Homo sapiens: one gene and its partners. The protein of the gene in region 4 purifies or fractionates together with the protein of the main gene of each other region. This does not show direct contact. Each region holds a gene or a part of one and is shown on either strand. Other genes may lie near its edges. The genes, in order: FHIT, SCAF11, RRP36, FDCSP and SLTM.

The links.
Region 1: the proteins of FDCSP (region 4) and FHIT purify together in Homo sapiens (affinity purification with mass spectrometry; one large-scale study listed by BioGRID and IntAct). This does not show direct contact.
Region 2: the proteins of FDCSP (region 4) and SCAF11 purify together in Homo sapiens (affinity purification with mass spectrometry; one large-scale study listed by BioGRID and IntAct). This does not show direct contact.
Region 3: the proteins of FDCSP (region 4) and RRP36 purify together in Homo sapiens (affinity purification with mass spectrometry; one large-scale study listed by BioGRID and IntAct). This does not show direct contact.
Region 5: the proteins of FDCSP (region 4) and SLTM purify together in Homo sapiens (affinity purification with mass spectrometry; one large-scale study listed by BioGRID and IntAct). This does not show direct contact.

What each region holds. Positions count from the first base shown.
Region 1 is NC_000003.12:60,012,921-60,016,497, reverse strand, and holds part of FHIT (bis(5'-adenosyl)-triphosphatase), read left to right. Parts: intron 1-2,233; exon of another isoform or gene 2,234-2,280; coding exon of another isoform or gene 2,281-2,292; intron 2,293-2,345; coding exon 2,346-2,491; intron 2,492-3,577. UniProt on the Homo sapiens protein: Possesses dinucleoside triphosphate hydrolase activity. Cleaves P(1)-P(3)-bis(5'-adenosyl) triphosphate (Ap3A) to yield AMP and ADP. Can also hydrolyze P(1)-P(4)-bis(5'-adenosyl) tetraphosphate (Ap4A), but has extremely low activity with ATP.
Region 2 is NC_000012.12:45,918,555-45,921,603, forward strand, and holds the end of SCAF11 (protein SCAF11), read right to left. Parts: 3' UTR 756-3,049; coding exon of another isoform or gene 720-755; 3' UTR 577-719; downstream 1-576. UniProt on the Homo sapiens protein: Plays a role in pre-mRNA alternative splicing by regulating spliceosome assembly.
Region 3 is NC_000006.12:43,024,603-43,027,417, forward strand, and holds part of RRP36 (ribosomal RNA processing protein 36 homolog), read left to right. Parts: intron 1-382; coding exon 383-530; intron 531-660; coding exon 661-727; intron 728-1,434; coding exon 1,435-1,539; intron 1,540-2,527; exon of another isoform or gene 2,528-2,575; coding exon 2,576-2,650; intron 2,651-2,757; coding exon 2,758-2,815. UniProt on the Homo sapiens protein: Involved in the early processing steps of the pre-rRNA in the maturation pathway leading to the 18S rRNA.
Region 4 is NC_000004.12:70,224,628-70,228,954, forward strand, and holds the start of FDCSP (follicular dendritic cell secreted peptide precursor), read left to right. Parts: upstream 1-1,496; 5' UTR 1,497-1,555; intron 1,556-4,327. UniProt on the Homo sapiens protein: Can bind to the surface of B-lymphoma cells, but not T-lymphoma cells, consistent with a function as a secreted mediator acting upon B-cells.
Region 5 is NC_000015.10:58,930,853-58,935,070, reverse strand, and holds the start of SLTM (SAFB-like transcription modulator), read left to right. Parts: upstream 1-1,391; 5' UTR 1,392-1,505; coding exon 1,506-1,667; intron 1,668-1,758; exon of another isoform or gene 1,759-2,018; coding exon of another isoform or gene 2,019-2,021; intron 2,022-2,627; coding exon 2,628-2,715; intron 2,716-4,218. UniProt on the Homo sapiens protein: When overexpressed, acts as a general inhibitor of transcription that eventually leads to apoptosis.

The DNA of each region.
Region 1 (3,577 bases), on a different chromosome or scaffold from region 4:
GACTGCAGTGTTGGGATGGATGAGTGAGTAGGTTGCCAGCCCAATCCACTGGTTAAATCACTCCCCAATTTTTAAAGTCCAGTTTAAATCTCATCTGCTCTAAGAAGTCGCCTTTGGTTTTCATCTACTGTGAGAAATCTCCTTGTCAGCTATACAACCTAAATTATAACTATTGACCTTCGCTTCCTTTAAAAAATATTATTGCTAAAAAAACTCTATACTCTAGATTATAGGGAGAAGTGGTAACCAGTTCCACAAGTTTTCACACATGATATGTACTGGATAAAACATTTATTCAATTCAATATAGTAACTTTAATTCTTTAAAGGTTATCCTACATGTTGGCTAAGAAATCTTGACAGAGGAGATAATCCCAAGCAAACAGGATCCAGAAGTAAATGTGTCTTCATAGCCTATGTATAATATGGAATTTACCCATTAACAAGGCCTAAGAGGCTCCAAATTAAATTATATTGCATCTGTGATATTATTTTAAAACAATTGGCATATAAAAAGTGGCATTAGAATTACAAAAGCTATCTGCTGTTCTTCTAATTAATTTGCTTTCCCTGAGTTGTTTTTCTAGGAGCAACATGCAAACAAGCAAAATTGACAAACAATAAGTTTTTTTATGGTGTTGAAAAAAAACATTTTTGGATGTCATTGATATTACTAAATTTACATTAGATACATAGGTTGTCTGATTTATTCCACCAGTTTTCACAGTAAGCCATTGTTGAAGTGAAATGTCTTCCTCCCCCACCGAGTTGCTGTGTGTGAACATAGCCTAACATAGCACTTATGGACTTCGTTGGAAGCTTGCATGGTTGTCACCCTTGCTGTGGTTTGGTGAAGTCAGGCCTAAGTGAGGGTGTAATTCAAATCAGGGAGGAGGAATATGGGGAAGGGTCCCTTTTAACACAGAAAAAGCAGCTTCGTGGGAGTGGAGGCTGGCAATCTGCTCAAAGGAAATGAAAGGAAATTCTTCATTTCTAAATGGTTCATTGACCCATGATAATAAAGCGGGCCTGCCAAAGATGGATAATTATCTTTTTAAGTATCAGATGCCCTGTGGGTGAACGCCTCCCTTCTCCTCTCTTGAAAAATGAACTCTGATTTTAAAAATGCTTCTTTTCCTAGTTTACCATTGACATGAATTTCCTGATTATGAGCAAAATTAATCAGTTTCTTCTTTCTCTTCCCCTCTCTCTTATGGAAATCAGGCCTGACCAGCTGAGCTCAGTTGTGTTTCCCCTTGGGCTCTGAGTTCTACCAATAGCGGAATGGGGTTGATATTCTAGTGAGACTAGCAATTGCAGAATTATGGTTTTATTATGCCCCTCAGCTGCTTAGCTCCAGGCAGGAGCATGCTGTCTTAAAACAACAAGAAAAAAGAAACAGAAAAACGTACAAGAGTTTGTTTCTCTTGTTAGTATCTAAAAACTAAACAAATATTTATATATATAGTGTGTGTATATACACATGTGTGCATACATGTGTGTATAGTGACTGAAATGTTATTGATGGTGTAACAGTGAATATTAATTTCCTATCAAGAAGTAATCAAATTTCTATCCTTTTTTCTCAGATCTTATATGTTGCTGAGACCAATAGTGTAAATACGTTGCCTTGTCTAACTTGTAGAATGCATTAAGAATGCTTTATTTGAATAAACAGACAACCTTTCGTTCATGATTTACCTTCAAATGTCTTCTTTTGGATTCTAAAAAAAAAATTAGTCTGAGGAACTCTTGTCATAAATTGCTTAACCACATGGCACCTCTCTTAGTTATGGATAAAGTTCACTGTACATTTTCAGAATGTCTATACTCTTTTAAAAATAAAATAAACATCTACTTTTGTATGTTCATTGCATAATTTTCTTATTTCTCTAAAGAGATAATTTAAATTAAAAATTTATCCCCATGTTCTACCTAGAGAAACCAAGTAGATATTCCAGTTGCTTTTTCAACCTAGTGCCTTTGGCTGCTGAAGCGGACACAGCTTTAGAATAGGGGTCAAGAGAGAATGATCTAGAATAGATCTTGCCTCCTCGCATAATTATCTCACCATACACTTGAGTCTGTCTGTACACGAATGTCCCTTTCTTTTGCAAGAAATTCTTCTGCATACCACAGCTTCTCCTTCAAAGTGTAATTATCCATGTATGGGAGCTCTCTTTCAACTCTCTGGAGTTCAGTGGATGGTAAATATCTGTTTCTTCATTCCTTAGTCTTTGAGAGTTCAGGCCCTGGTCCGAGAGGATTCAATCCTGTGGGTATGAACTGCTTGGTAAGAACACTACCCAAAGCCAGCAGCATGGGCCTTAACAGACCTTGCTACAGATGTCCTTGTGTGCCCGCTGCGGCCAGTGGAGCGCTTCCATGACCTGCGTCCTGATGAAGTGGCCGATTTGTTTCAGACGACCCAGAGAGTCGGGACAGTGGTGGAAAAACATTTCCATGGGACCTCTCTCACCTTTTCCATGCAGGTGAGTGTACAGATTTCTCAGAAATGATTTTTCTTCCCTTTCATATCCCGGCATTGGGCTTGCTCCTCCTGATATCTTACCAGGAGGGCAGATGTGATTGTTTGTATTTTAGGTAGCAGCCAAAAAAAGAGATTTCTAATGCAGGGCAACCCTACTGTCCATTGGCCCCAAGATGGACCGTGGGATAGTGTCTAAGGTGATGTCTGAGGCTTGTTTACCAAGCAGGTGGGAGTAATGGATAAGTGATTTAATGGACATTCAGACATTCCAAATTGCTTACTGGAACTGGGACTGGAAAAATCATTTTCATTCCATGGTAACTAATTTTTGAGCACTGCATAGACTAAGCCCTGCTCTAATTCCAGGGTGGCAGTGATATGCAGCTTAGGTTGGGCCTTACCTTTTGTCTGTCTTTAATTCAAGATGCAGAGATTGATCACAGATTAGTTAGAAGCTAGATTCACTGGTTGGGTGTGGCCCACTGACCAGTGAAGAAATCAGATCCCCAGTCACTGAAGATTTTTAGGCAGAGGTTGAGCCAACAGTTGTCAGGTTGGGAGAAGGATGTCCATGGTGAGTCATCAGTAGGGAATTGAGTAAATCCGTAGTAACATACCATGAGCTCCTTCAGGCCCTCTATGGAAAGGGCTGGGGTATCAATGTATAAAGTCCTTCATGGCTCTGAAATTGGATGACTCTGTAATTGCCCTTTAGAAGGACACACTTTCAAAATGTGAGGACTCTGTACTCAGCCTGTTAGTTAAACTGAATGTTTGCCATTCTTCCTCCCCTCCTTAGCTCTTTACCATAGAGCTTCAAAGAGACCAGATAAAGAAAGCCAGTGTTTTCAGGTTATGAAGGCTCTGACTAAAAGTGCTCATCTTCTTCTCAAACAGATTTTTTTCTTTCTTTTTTTGCTGCCATGTCTGTGTTAAGAGTAGCTAAACTTCCCCCAAATGCTTTGTGTGTATGTGTTGTATGTCAAACCATTTGAGTCCCCTTCAGGCAGGTAGTTCAGTTCAGAGTGGGTTTATCAAGCTTATGTTGCAAACCGTGTTTCTGGAGAGACTAAATGAAGGCAGTGAA
Region 2 (3,049 bases), on a different chromosome or scaffold from region 4:
AAATTAGCCAGGCGTGGTGTCAGGTGCCTGTAATCCCAGCTACTCAAGAGGCCAAGGCAGGAGAATTGCTTGAACCCGGAAGGTGGAGGGTGCAGTGAGCTGAGATGGCGCCACTGCATTCCAGCCTGGGCAACAGAGCGAGACTCCATCTCAAAAAAAGAAAAAAAAAGAGAATATTATACAGCCAGTATAAATCATGCTGTAATTTTTACTAAAATGGAAAGTTCTCAGTACGTCAAGTGAAAATGAAAGGTTACAACATATTATGTGCAGTTTGCTTGGCATTAGTTATTACCTTTGGTAGGATTACAGGTGATTTTTCTCCTTTTTCAGTCTCTTCTTTTACACATTTACTAAAGTTTTTCTAATTTCTTACAATAATTATGTAATCAGGGGAAAATGCCATTAAAATATATGCTTATAGCTAACTCTAAGCTTGCTTTAGAGCTTGGGTATTACGTAACCATGATGCGAATGACTGGTACAAATCCAAGTAACACTTCAATACGTTTGTAAGGGATTATAATTGAAAAGTCACCATTCCCCTGGAACCTTAATAATAAAATGTTAAAGACATTAGTTTATCAAAAGAATTTATTAGAAAATATTACACACTACATACATATTTATTTAAGAGTATAATTTCAGTAGACAGCACTCCAACTTCATAATACAAACAATATCTCATGGACCCTGGGGCAATCACTGTGCTTCTGAAGCTACATCTTTTGGATGGAACATTCCAGCAGTACACACTGTGGCCATTTAAAGGAAGGTAAGAGAAAAAAATGTGATAATTACCAAAACAAATTTTAAAAAGCACAAAACTTTTGGAATGTTAATGGATAACTACTATTAGTCTCAAAATTCTAGGCATTTCTATAAAACATTGGTCAATGTGACTAGTAAGTTAACGGGACCAAGGTTTCAAAGATCAATACTGAACCTTGATAAATAATAAGAGGAAATGTAACTCCACAAAATGTTTCTGATTAAGTTTGTGCCCATGCAAAATTAACATAAATTTCTTAACTCAAGAATGAGGAATATTAAAGCAATGTATTTTTTCAACATAAAGCATGCATTTTCTAATACATTCTTAAACATTTCAAAATTTTAAAAGTTCGAATTCTAATCAAGTAGCTATTAATGCAGTCTAACCAGTGCCCCAAATCAGACATGGAACACACACTTGTTACTGTCACGGAAATAATTCATGGGAGTGCTACTAAAGATATATGAGACTTCAACTCTTGACCACATCACTTTTTCTCCAAAACTTTAGAACTTGTTTGCAAAAGCTAAATGGTATAAAACACATTTTAAAATGTCACCCAATTCTCAAATGTCACTGAAAGAAAATGCAGGAAAAGTATGTATTGTGTGATTAATCAGCTTAGGCTTAACTCAAAATACTTTCAATGTTCACAAAATTGTTTCTAGAGTTCTAATCTAAAACAACTAAGGAGGTGTGCCTTGATATTCTGAAACACTGTCTTAATACTTTATTAGAAGAAATATGCTTGAAATTTCTTTACCATAATCTAAACGCAAACTTTAAAAATATATACCAGTAGAATACCATATTACAAATGCCCAGAAATGTAGAATAAAGGTCAAAAACTGCTTGGAAATATTTTTATGATTACACTCATAACAACAAAGCTTATGAACTAGCACAATCATTATGGGACCAACATTTCAAAATATTTTGCCTATCAAAGCTAGCACCAGGAAAAGTATTATGCACATAAAATTGAGAAACAGATAATCTTTACTTTAGAAAAGCACAGTTCTACAGAGTATTGCTCTGGCTAAATAGTTTAGCTAGTAAAAAGGTCAGTTTATCTCACTGAGGCATGTATCTCCTTGGATCTATTAACTTATCTGAAGAACTTTCCAGGTACTTGGTATGTACTGAAAATTCTTACTGGAATCAGTTTATCATGGAGAAAACCTACTGTTCTTTCAAGATGCCAGTTAAAATAATGGCACAATAAACATTTTAAACTTACCTTTTATAAAAACTGAGATATTCTAGTATTAAAAAGAGAAAAAAAAAAAAACCCAAATCCCTAATCCCTGAAAGGCTAACCAGGACTCCATTATTTAAATTTCCCCTCTGTTTCTAAAACACAGGTTTTACTGTCTAGAATTTTGCAACATGGCTAATGGCTACCACCTGGTCACCAAATTAACACTTCATTCATTGTAAAGCATTTGGGGATTTTCAAGTGTGAAAATATTTCATCAGTGATTAGATAAACAACAACTTTACGCCAGTGCCATGAGTCTTGTAATTCTTAGCCCCAAGGAAGGGAGGATAACAGCCTAACAGCAATTCTCGAATTGGCACAAATAATTTATCGTCTGCAACGGGTAGAAGAAGATACTATGAAAGAACATAATTTCTACAAAGTCAACACTTTTTTTTTTCTTTTTTTTGAGACGGAGATTTGCTCCTGTTGCCCAGGCTGGAGTGCAATGGCATGGTCTCGGCTCACTGCAATCCCCGCCTCCCGGGTTCAACTGATTCTCCTGCCTCAGCCTCTCGCATAGCTGGGATTACAGGCGCCCACCACCACGCCTGGCTAATTTTTGTATTTTTAGTAGAGACGGGATTTCACCATGTTGGCCAGGCTGGTCTCGAACTCCTGACCTCAGGTGATCCGCCACCTCGGCCTCCCAAAGTGCTGGGATTACAGGCGTGAGCCATCATGCCCGGCCGAAAGTCAACAATTTTTCCAAATCTTTTTCCTCAAAGTCTTCAACAAAGACTTTGAACTGCCAAAGTTGTAATCTAGTAAGTCAAACTGCTTATCTCAATTAGGGGTAAACAAAGGCACAAAAGAAAAACAAGCAGCATAACCTTTATTTGGTCATACAATAGGTGAAGAGTGTCTCAATGTTTTGAACACTAAATTTTACTCGTGATAATTTTTTTTCTATCTAGGCAATTTATTCAGATATGTGCTTTAAAAATACACATTAGGAACTTTGCAACTGATATGTTCTATTTAATATTAGAAACATTTTTCATGGTAATACA
Region 3 (2,815 bases), on a different chromosome or scaffold from region 4:
ACTGATTGAGGTGAGAGATGCTGAGCATGTGGACCAGGACACTGGCAATGGTAACTGAGCAAGGGAGGCAGATGCCCTTCTGGGGAAACCTGTGAATGAGTAAAAGAGAGAGTAAAAGAATGAGTAAAAGAGAAAAAGAAGGGACTATGGTTTGGTGCACCTTTGACCTTACATATACACCTTCCTTAGCAAGATGAGGCCCCAGGTTGCTGAAATAGTTGGAGAGTTTAACACTATCACAGCCTCTGCTGCCTAGGACTTCTAATAATGATTGGTCTGATGGGGTATTAGGATTAGCTAGCTAAGGAATGGGGATGGGAAGATGTCTTTTCTGCAGTGGGACATGCTGAGCTGAGTTGTATGTCCCTCCCCACTTCCACAGGCACATCTAACATGTCATTTGAGGAGCTGTTGGAATTGCAGAGCCAAGTGGGGACTAAGACGTACAAACAATTGGTAGCTGGAAATAGTCCTAAGAAACAAGCTTCTAGACCACCTATCCAAAATGCATGTGTTGCAGATAAGCACAGGTAAGCAAGGCTTGCCCTAGAAGTTGGAAGATAACTGGGACCTTGAATAGGTATGTTGTCTTGGGTGACAGGTGGGAAGCCTTTGACCAACACTGGAGTCCTCTTGACTTGGCTTTTAATTTCTCCATAGGCCTCTGGAAATGTCAGCCAAGATCCGAGTACCATTTTTACGTCAGGTTGTTCCCATTAGTAAAAAGGTAAGGAAGAAGGCCAGGCACTGTGGCTCACGCCTGTAATCCCAGCACTTTGGGAGCCCGAGGTGGGCGATCACCTGAGATCAGGAGTTCCAAGACCAGCATGGCCAACATGGTGAAACCCTGTCTCTACTAAAAATACAAAAATTAGCTGGGCATGGTGGTGTGTGCCTGTAGTCCCAGCTGCTTGGAAAACTGAGGCACAAGAATCGCTTGAACCTGGGAGGTGAAGGTTGCAGTGAGCCAGGATCATGCCACTGCCCTACAGCCTGTGGGACAGAGTAAGACTCTGTCTCAAAAAAAAAAAAAAAAAAAAAAATAGAGGCCGGGCGCAGTGGCTCATGTCTGTAATCCCAGCACTTTGGAAGGCCAAGGTGGGCGAATCACGAGGTCAGGAGATTGAGACCATCCTAGCTAACACAGTGAAACCCCGTCTCTACTAAAAATACAAAAAAAAATAGCCGGGCGTGGTGGCGGGTGCCTGTAGTCCTAGCTACTCAGGAGGCTGAGGCAGGAGAATGGTGTGAACTTGGGAGGCACAGCTTGCAGTGAGCCGAGATTGCACCACTGCACTCCAGCCTGGGCGACAGAGCGAGACTGTGTCTCAAAAAGCAAAAAAAAAGAAAGATGAGGAAGAGACAGGAAGCACTTTTTCTCAGTGAAAGGAGATTGAACAGTTGTGTTTTATATTCTCTCTCTTCTCTCCAAAGGTAGCCCGGGACCCTCGCTTTGATGATCTGTCAGGGGAATATAATCCTGAGGTGTTTGACAAAACATACCAATTCTTGAATGACATCCGAGCGAAAGAGAAAGAGGTATACAGCTTGAGACTGGTTTATGGGGAATTTTGTGGGGTGGAAAATGAGGGCACAGGTTAGAGAGTTGGGCAGGGGGAGTGGGAAGTATAGTGGTGGGCAGATTTAACTCTCTCCAATTCAGTTCATATTCAAATCCTGGCTCATCAGTTTACTAGCTGTGTGATTATTGGCATGTTACTTAATCTCTCTATGCTTTAGTTTTCTAATCATAAAAAAATAAAATAATAATTACTGTCTTGGAGGCCGGGTGTGGTGGCTCACGCCTGTAAGTAATCCCAGCACTTGGGGAGACTGAGGTGAGCACATCATTTGAGGCCAGCAGTTCCAAGACCAGCCTGGCCAACATGGTGAAACCCCATCTCTACTAAAAATAGAAAAATTAGCCAAGTGTGGTGTTGCATGCCTATAGTCCCAGCTACTCAAGAGGCTGAGGCATGGGAATTGCTGGTGCCCTGGAGACAAAGGTTGCAGTGAGACAAGATCGTGTCACTGCACTCCAACCTGGGCAGCAGGGCAAGACTGTCTCCAAACAAACAGTTACTGTCTTGGTGTTATCAAGTTAATATATGTGAACTTCTGGCCGGGTGCGGTGGCTCATGCCTGTTATCCCACCACTTTGGGAGGCCGAGGCAGGTGGATCACGAGGTCAGGAGATTGGGACCATCCTGGCCAACATGGTGAAATTAGTCTCTACTAAAATACAAAAGGAGGAGATCAAGATCATCCTGGCCAACATGGTGAAATTTAGTCTCTACTAAAATAAAAAAAAAAATTAGCCGGGCGTGGTGGCACGTGCCTGTAGTCCCAGCTACTTGGGAGGCTGAGGCAGGGGAATTGCTTGAACCCAGGAGGCGGAGGTTGCAGTGAGCCAAGATCACACCACTGCACTCAAGCCTGTGACAGAGCAAGACTGCATCTCAAAAAAAAATGTGTGTGTGTGTATGTGTGTGAACTTCTTAGGATAATGCTTTACATAAAATTTCAGCTAACATTTGCAGAATGCTAACCATGATACTCATTTTCCAATGTGGAGCTTGTGAAAAAACAGTTGAAGAAGCACCTTTCAGGAGAGGAGCATGAGAAACTGCAGCAACTGCTTCAGCGAATGGTGAGTGGGTAATAATTGTGGTGGGTAATGAAAGCAATTAAAGGTGGGAGATATTCACAGATCTGAACAGATCCCTCCCGTTCACCCATCTCATCTTTGCTCCTCAGGAGCAGCAAGAAATGGCACAGCAGGAACGAAAGCAACAGCAGGAGCTGCACCTGGCCC
Region 4 (4,327 bases):
ATGTCAAAAGAATTGAAGTAACACAAGGACAGAAAATCATTTATGGTTTTCACAATTCAGTGGCAATTGCCAACCTCCATTAGAGCTATTTCAGATAAAAGAAATTGAAGTAGAATAAATTGAACGACAGGTTTTAGGTAAGGAAATGGATAATACACACACACACACACACACACACACACACACACACACACACCTGTCATCCCCATCCCTGGGGAAATGTACTATGAGCCCCAAATTGGTCAAAATATGTACAATAACATAACAGGTTTAATATATTAAGTTTCTGATTCAGGCAGTTTTCTTTAAATCATTGAGATAAGATTAAACGTTGAGTTATAGGTGAAGGAAGTAGTTTAATGTTTCTCTGGCTTTGTGCTGATTTTTCTAACCTTCTGTTAACAGTGACAGTATAAGGCACCAGTTATAAATGTGGGTTTTAGAACCAAATTGCTGGTGCTCAATTCAATATCTGCCAGAGACTAGCTGTAATACCCAGACTGATTACTAATATTCTCTGCTTCTCAGTCTCAAAATGGGATGGTGTTGATCATAGTACTTTCCTCTTAAGGTGGTTGTTTGGGAGATTTAATTATATTATATATATAAAGCATTTAAATTTGTGCTTCAGCACTTAAAGTCCTCAAAAAAACTTACCTGCTATTATTTTTCTGAGTTGCCTTGAGAACTGAATTCTAGAAAAAATAAAAAGAAGAAAAGGGACTTTGATGCACTACTACTACAATCTGGACTATATAACCTCTTTTGAAGTAGAAATCGAACTCAATAACAGAATATTCTTAAAAGCTCTCGAATTAGTTAAAGCTCAAATTTTATGACTCTTGAAAAAGGCATATACAATATGCACGCATATTTAAGGTAATTCTTGAATGTTTTGTGGGCCCTAGTTTCTGTTCCCGCACTTAATAATGATACCTTTTCTGCTGTAAGTGAATTTTTAGTTGAGAAATAGAGTATAGTGTTCCATAAGGTAAACAAGATGCTGTGGTGCTCCAAAAATACAATTCACTCATCTACGAAGCTCTAATCCTGATAATAAAATGAAGAAGTTGAAAGAAGAATCATGCAAAAGATTTTAATCCCATCTTAAACAATTTTTAGATTTTTTATTTTCTTAAGATTCCAGCACTATCAAATATGCTTTGCAATAGGTTATAATCAATACCAGTAAAATGCTTAGAGGTATTTTAAATTGTGGGAAGTAAAGGAAAAAATTGTGAGAGTAGACAATGGAGCAACAACATGTAAAGTGATAAACTTCAAATATACAAGACACAAAATTTGGAGAAAAAAACCACAAAAGATTTTGGTATTTGGTAGTTTCTAGGAAACTAAACATTGGTTATTCCCCAATTTCAACATATTGAGATAGTTGATGAGTAATAACTGATCCTAGGGGAGAGGCCTTTAAGCCACAGATTTCTCCATTCCATTATACCTTTGAGTATATAAAACAGCTACAATATTCCAGGGCCAGTCACTTGCCATTTCTCATAACAGCGTCAGAGAGAAAGAACTGACTGAAACGTTTGAGGTAAGAAAGGTCTTAAATATCATTGTAAACTAAGATTGTATATCTATTTTGTAAATATAGATATATAGCATCTCTCCATATATTTTTCTTTAAATCATAAAAATTTTAATTGTTGAGACTAAATTGTAATGGTTGCTTGAATTTGTAGACTTAGTAATTAGAAAACCATTTTTAGTATTCTGTTTGCAAAACTTTTTTTAAAATCACCACCCTGCTGTAGTAAATATTTATTTTAGAGTGACCATAAATGAATCTTTCTAGGAGTGGAGCACTGGTGGGGGAGAGTGTGGACAGAGTGAAACAACAGAGCCTCAGGTTTATTTTTAAATTTGTGGCCATCAGGTCAGCAAACAGAGGGAATACGCCCCGCCAGAGATTCTCTAAAGTCTGAGCAAGTGCCAATTTCTTTGGCCTCCTCTTTTATCTTTAAAATATATACAGTACTTACATTCCATTCCATAACATTTTATGTTGATTTTAATATAAAAGTCATTTGTCTTTCCCATAAACTCTTGAATAAAATTAATTATCTAGGAAGATGCATCTGATTTATCTGGAGAATCATTTATTCTACAGCACGCAGCAATAAACTGCTATGGGTATCATGACTTGATAAGTATAAAAATAAAAGGAGATAGCTGGTAATTATGCTGTGTCCTGACTCTAAGATATGATCTGGAAGAGTCTGTAATGTGGATTATTTACTTATTTGCTTAATGTAGTTTTGAATAATTCTTGAAACCAGTTGAAAGAAATTATATTGTAAAGGCCCTGCTTGAATTCTATTCTCTCCAAAACTATTTTCTCAACCTGCCTCTTTCTTCTTCTAAATACTCAAAATATTTTGCAATTTCTACATATGGTATATATCACGCTTTTTTTTCACATTACAGAAATATCTGTATCCATCTTCCATGTGGAAGTCTCAAGTGGAAGAAATTATGCTTTATCATTGTATCCCTGAAAGCACCCAGCATTGTTGCTTTGCACATAGAAAGTGGACTATGTATATGTATGTGTGTGTCTGTGAGGAGTATGTGTGAGTGTGTGCATGTGTGTGTTTGTATAATTTTTACTCTTGATTTCCTACATTAACAATCTGCCTGTAGAAGTCTGAACTTGACCGGAATTTTACATTCCTGTCTTCTCAAAATTATTAGATTATCTGGTACTTTTTTGAATTTGAATTCAAATTTTGATTAGTATCAGAAAATAAAGGCAGAGATCAAAACTTTGCTACATTTTTTACACTGCGTTCTTTTGTCTCATAGATGTATAGGAAACATCAAAAGGTGATAAAATTTCCCTAGAATCTCCACTATCTCAAAGGTACTTCAAAATGATAATGATATTAAAAATTGACATTTTCCCCAATGTAAAATATTAAATTAAATAGTCTTTAAAAAGCTTTGTAATGTATTTACTTATAACAATGTAACAGTGAGCTTAAAAGATCCATAAATCAGGGACTTTCCAAACTGATATTACAGGCAAACTTCAGAGATACTGCAGGTTCAGTTCTTGACCACCACCATAGAATGAGTATCAAAGTTAGGCAGGTCAAATGAATTTCTTGGATTCCCAGTGTACATAAAAGTTATGATTACACTACAGCATTGTATGTTAAGTGTAATAGCAGTATGTCTAGAAAAACAACATACATATCTTAATTAAAACATACTTTATTGCTCAAAAATGCTAACAATTATCTCAGTCTTCACTGAGTCATAATCTTTTTGCTGGTGTAGGGTCTTGCCTTGATGTTGATGGCTGCTGAATGATCAGGGTGATGGTTCCTGAAGGCTAAGCTGGCTGTGGCAATTTCTTAAAATAAGTCAACAATGAAGTTTGACACACAGATTGACTCTTCCTTTCACAAAAGATTTCTCTGTAGCATGCGATGTTGTAGCATTTTGGAGCATGTGAAGCATTTTGCCCACAGTATTTCTTTCAAAATGGGACTCAACCCTTGCAAACCCTGCCACTGCTTTATCAATTAAGTTTATGTAGTATTTTAAATCATTTACTGTCATTTGAAAAATATTCACAGCATCTTCACCAGGAGTAGATTCCATCTCAAGAAACCACTTTCTTTGCTCATCCATAAGAAGCCATTTTTCATTCATTCAAGTTTTACCGTTAGATTGAAGCAATTAAGTCACATGTTCAAGCTTCACTTCTAATTCTAGTTCTCTTGCTATTTCCACCACATCTGCAAGTTACTTCCTCCACTGAAGTCTTGAATCCCTCAAAGTCATCCACAAGAGTTGGAATCAACTTCTCCCAAACTCCTGTAATGTTGATATTTTGGCCTCCTCCTATGAATCACAAATGGTCTTAATGGCATCTGGAGTGGTGTATATTTTACAGAAGGTTTTTAATTTACTTTGCCCAGATCCATCAAATAAATCACTATCTGTGCCAGCTATAGCCTTACAAAATGTATTTATTTAATAATGAAACCTGAAAGTCAAATTTACTCTTTGATCCATAGGCTGCAGAATGGATGTTGTGTTAGCAGGCATGAAAACAACATTCATCTCTTTGTACATCTGCTTCAGAGTTCTTGGGGGCTCAGGTACATTTTCAATGAATGGCAATATTTTGAAAAAAACATTTTTTCCTAAGAAGTGAGCTGAAAATATTAGTAAACCATGCTGTGTTAGATGTACTGCCATCCAGGCTTTGTTGTTCCATCCACAGAGCACAGGAAGAGTAGATTTAGTATAATTCTTAAGGGCACTACGATTTTCTAAATGATAAATGAGCATT
Region 5 (4,218 bases), on a different chromosome or scaffold from region 4:
GATTACAGGTGCTCACCACCACACCCGGCTAATTTTTGTATTTTTTGTAGAGACGGGGTTTCTACTAAACCCTGTATCTTGGCCAGTTTGGTCTTGAACTCCTGACCTCAAGTGATGGGCCAGAAGATTTCTAAGGAGTCTTGCATTCTAAACTTCTATTATTGTGAATCCAATGTTGTAGCAGAGACAGAGCTGGATTTGGAATCAGGAGCCTGGGATTTGAGCACAGCTCGGCCACATACCAGCTGTGTGAACATGGGCAAGTCATTTAATCTCTCTAAGCCTCACGGAGATTTACTTGACAGACTTGGGAAGGATTAAGGGGGTTACTGTACGTCAAAGTGCCTTATAAACTGTAAAGAACTACCCTAATGTCAGGTATTCTTTTATAATGTCCAGTCTTCCTTTTTTTTGAGCCAATCAGAAAAAGTAACCTAAAGTGAGTCAGATCTCAGGAATTTAAGTTGTAAAACCAGGAAATACAGTATAGTTAATTGTGCATCATAATCACCTTATGGAATTTATAGAATCGTTTTATTTTATCAATGCTTGCACTTTGATAATGAATAATACAAGGTAAAATTACAAATAGGTACTCACTTGTACAGGCCGATCCTCCATAAGAAGATGCTCACTGTTCTTGGAATCCCAAATTTTGGGGGGCAAAATAGTGAACACAGTATATGATAACGGCAACAAGTACTTATAAGCTAGTTTTCTCTTTCATTGAACAATTTCGTGTTGAGCCATCAGGTCTACCGGGGAGGATAGCAAACCTGAGGCCAACAAGAAAGAAGTTTTCCTGTTTTTCAAGTGAGGAAGGGCAGCCCTAGAATAACCTAAGCTGCCATGGGCAGGGCGATGATGTTTTCTCCTGAGACAGCCAATGAGCCATGTGTCAAAGGCCAGCCCTTCCTATTCTTTGGACTAACAGCCCTAGAACTGCTTTGAGGTCTTTTGAATGGAACTCGGGGAACCTAGTTCGTTGGTGCACACCGGCGACAATTTTTCGATTATTCAGCAGAACTGATAAAGTATTTCCTTGAGAGGTTCAGCGCGCGCACGCGCCCCCTCGGTTTGTGTTGAGTAACGCGCGCACTATGTCATTCAGTGCCCGCACATCGTTGTTGCTCAAGACTCAAGACGTTGCAAGAAAATGGCTAACGAAGCGACGAGAGAACGGCGGCGCGGCGGACGTTGCTGCGGTAGGACGTGCCCGACCTCCCAGTCCACACAAGGGAGCGCACCGCCCAAGTGGCCGCGGCCCGCTCGACCGAGCGCGCCGCTGCCGGTCCCTGCGCCAACGCGCACGCGCGGCCGTCATCCGGGTGCTGGCGGCTGCTGCTGCAGGTTGCGCTAGGGTGGCGGACCGGGGGAGGGGCCAGCGGCTCATTGTGCGCAGCGCTGCGCGGCGCCGGCGGCCGCCGAGGCCTGGGTGGAAGTTGGCGCTGCTGCCGCCGCCCTGCAGCCCACTCGCTGCCTCGGCAGCGCGCTGCTCTTCTAAGATGGCTGCCGCTACCGGTGCGGTGGCAGCCTCGGCCGCCTCGGGTCAGGCGGAAGGTAAAAAGATCACCGATCTGCGGGTCATCGATCTGAAGTCCGAGCTGAAGCGGCGGAACTTAGACATCACCGGAGTCAAGACCGTGCTCATCTCCCGACTCAAGCAGGTGAGGCCCGGCGAGGACCGGAAAGGACCGGGAAGGGGAACTTAGGCCGCGCCTCGGCGCCCCGCTTCCGCCGCAGCCTCCGGCTGCCCGCAGCCGCTGGGACCTGCGGAACGGCATGGTAGGGAGGCCAGGGGCGGCTCCCGCGAGCGTGGAGGACGGGGACCCTTCCGCGGTGCCCCCGCCCCGCGCCCCGGGCCGGGCCGGGCCTGCGAGGGACCGGCCACCGCAGCCCAGCGTGCCTCCGCCTCCCCGGGACGTCCCCGCCAGGCTGCGAGGGTTGCGGCCGGCCGGCGCGGCCTCCCAAGGGCGATCGCGGAGACCTGGGAGGCGCTGGCTCCCCAGCCTTTAGCCATGGTGAGCGTGTGCATTTCTTGGCCTCAGAGGGAATGGTTACTTTGGTGACTTCTGCGAAGTTACCGTTTAATTGTGCCCAACCGTTTCTTCCCCATCTTGAGGGGGAATTGGTAGTGGGAGTTGATGGGTGGGTGACAGAGTTTTTGTTTTCCACTAGGCTTTTAGTTTTTGCATCAGCGCAATAATTACTTTTTCTTTCCTGATTAGCTTTCTGGTTTGAGTGAGCGTTGGAATTGTAGCAGAGGAGCAGTAAGTTTGCATTACAGAAACTAGGAAAACTCTTTTTAGTTATTTACTTTAGTAGCTAGCAACTTTTCTGCAATAGAACATATTTGGATTTTTGGCCAGTATGATGTGATATTTAATTATCTTGACACGGTAGAATTTAAAACTCCTTGCGATTTTGATACCTAATGATTTTTTTCCCCTGAAAGTTTCTCTCACTCTTTCGTGTAGTTTAATTGCTCATTTTTGAAGTCGGTTGATGAAATGACTGGCAATTCTAATGTCTTGAGGCTTGAGGTTTGCTAAATTTTTTTTCATTTCGTTTTTATAAAATAAGTTTAGATAGATTGTGTAGCATATTAACTTCTCTTTCTAATGTAGGCTATTGAAGAGGAAGGAGGCGATCCAGATAATATTGAATTAACTGTTTCAACTGATACTCCAAACAAGAAACCAACTAAAGGCAAAGGTTGTTACGAGTTATGAACATGTTTTAAAATATATTTTGGTTATATAACTTGCCTCTGCTCTTGTGCCTCTTGCCCTGTTTATATAGTGCTACTCTTTGCTATTTCCCTCTGGCAGTCTGCCTTCTTGGGTCAAGGAAGAAAAGTTACTGTTGCCAGGCTTTGGGTGACTTGTAGCCCTTAAGATTCGGCTGAAGCTGATTAGAAAGTGAGAACAGTTCTTTATTGCTTCCGGAAAAAATTACAAAGTCAAGTTGTGTAATGATGCTTCATAGTGTGAAGACCTGAATAAAATACAGTTTAACACATGTCTACCTTGCCCCACAATTGGCAGAGTTTTGATGGAATTCCTACCAAATCTTTTACCTTGCCTCCTTGCTGTTTTCTTTAGTATATTAAAATTCTATAACCTTTATGTTTAGTACTTTGTTTGACTTGGTGAACTTAATTTGCATTTATGCCATTATACCTCCTAATTTTTAGTGAAATTCAAAAAGACCTCACCAATCATACTAACAAGGTAGAGGGAAAAATCCATGATTAATTAGCTTAAAAAAGTTTTAAATTATAGGGATGTTAAAGATTCTTATTTTTAACTTTTAAGCTAGAGCAAAATATATTTATTTCTAGGATATAATGATTTAGTGACTAGCTAAAAGTGGTTTTAAATGAACGTTTTGCAGTATGAATGGAACTTAGGTATTTTTTAAAGCTTCTTGGTAAATGAAACCTTTATTTGAATAACTGCAAATTTCTCCCTCCTATAAGGACAGTGGCAGAGGGTGGACATGATATATCTGGATTCTGGTCTTTACCTACAATTTTCATGCAGAGTTTGTCATGAACAGCTGCTGCATTTTTTGTAATCTAATTTTCTTTACTGCTTTAAGTGATCCAAGTGTTACTCCCAACCACTGAATGATTGCAACTAAAATAAAATGAATGGATTAATATTGAAAAGGGAATATTAAATTTTGATCTTAAGCACACCTGGGTATCAGAGATGAGGACAACTCACTATTTTAAGTCTTCCTAGGTTAGGAGAGTCCCCTGTTTGTGCCAAAGGAAATTGAAAAGGGCTAATAAGCATTCCCTGGGAGAGGTGGGGATGTAGTTTAGAGAAGTAAAAAAGTTATCTTAAAGGTAGCTTTTAAGATAACTCTGACTCAGTGTATCACTTTGAGAGATACATTTTCTGTATTTAAAGAAGCTTGTCATGAGAAGACTGCCAACAAACCAGAGGCTATTTCAAAATGGAAAACGATAGAAATTCAGAAATAAGTATATCAGGAATTAACCATGTGTCTTGCAGTAGTTTTGATTCATATCTTTTACCTAGCATGCTGTGCTAGTTTGACAGGTACTGTGTATTAATCATAGTCCCAGGTTGTTTGAGTTGACTATTATTTTAGCATTGAAAATAAACATGATTTATTCCTTTCTCACCTACTTTTAATTTCTCTGTATATCCCTTTTTCAGTTTTGACTAGGAACATCATTTATCT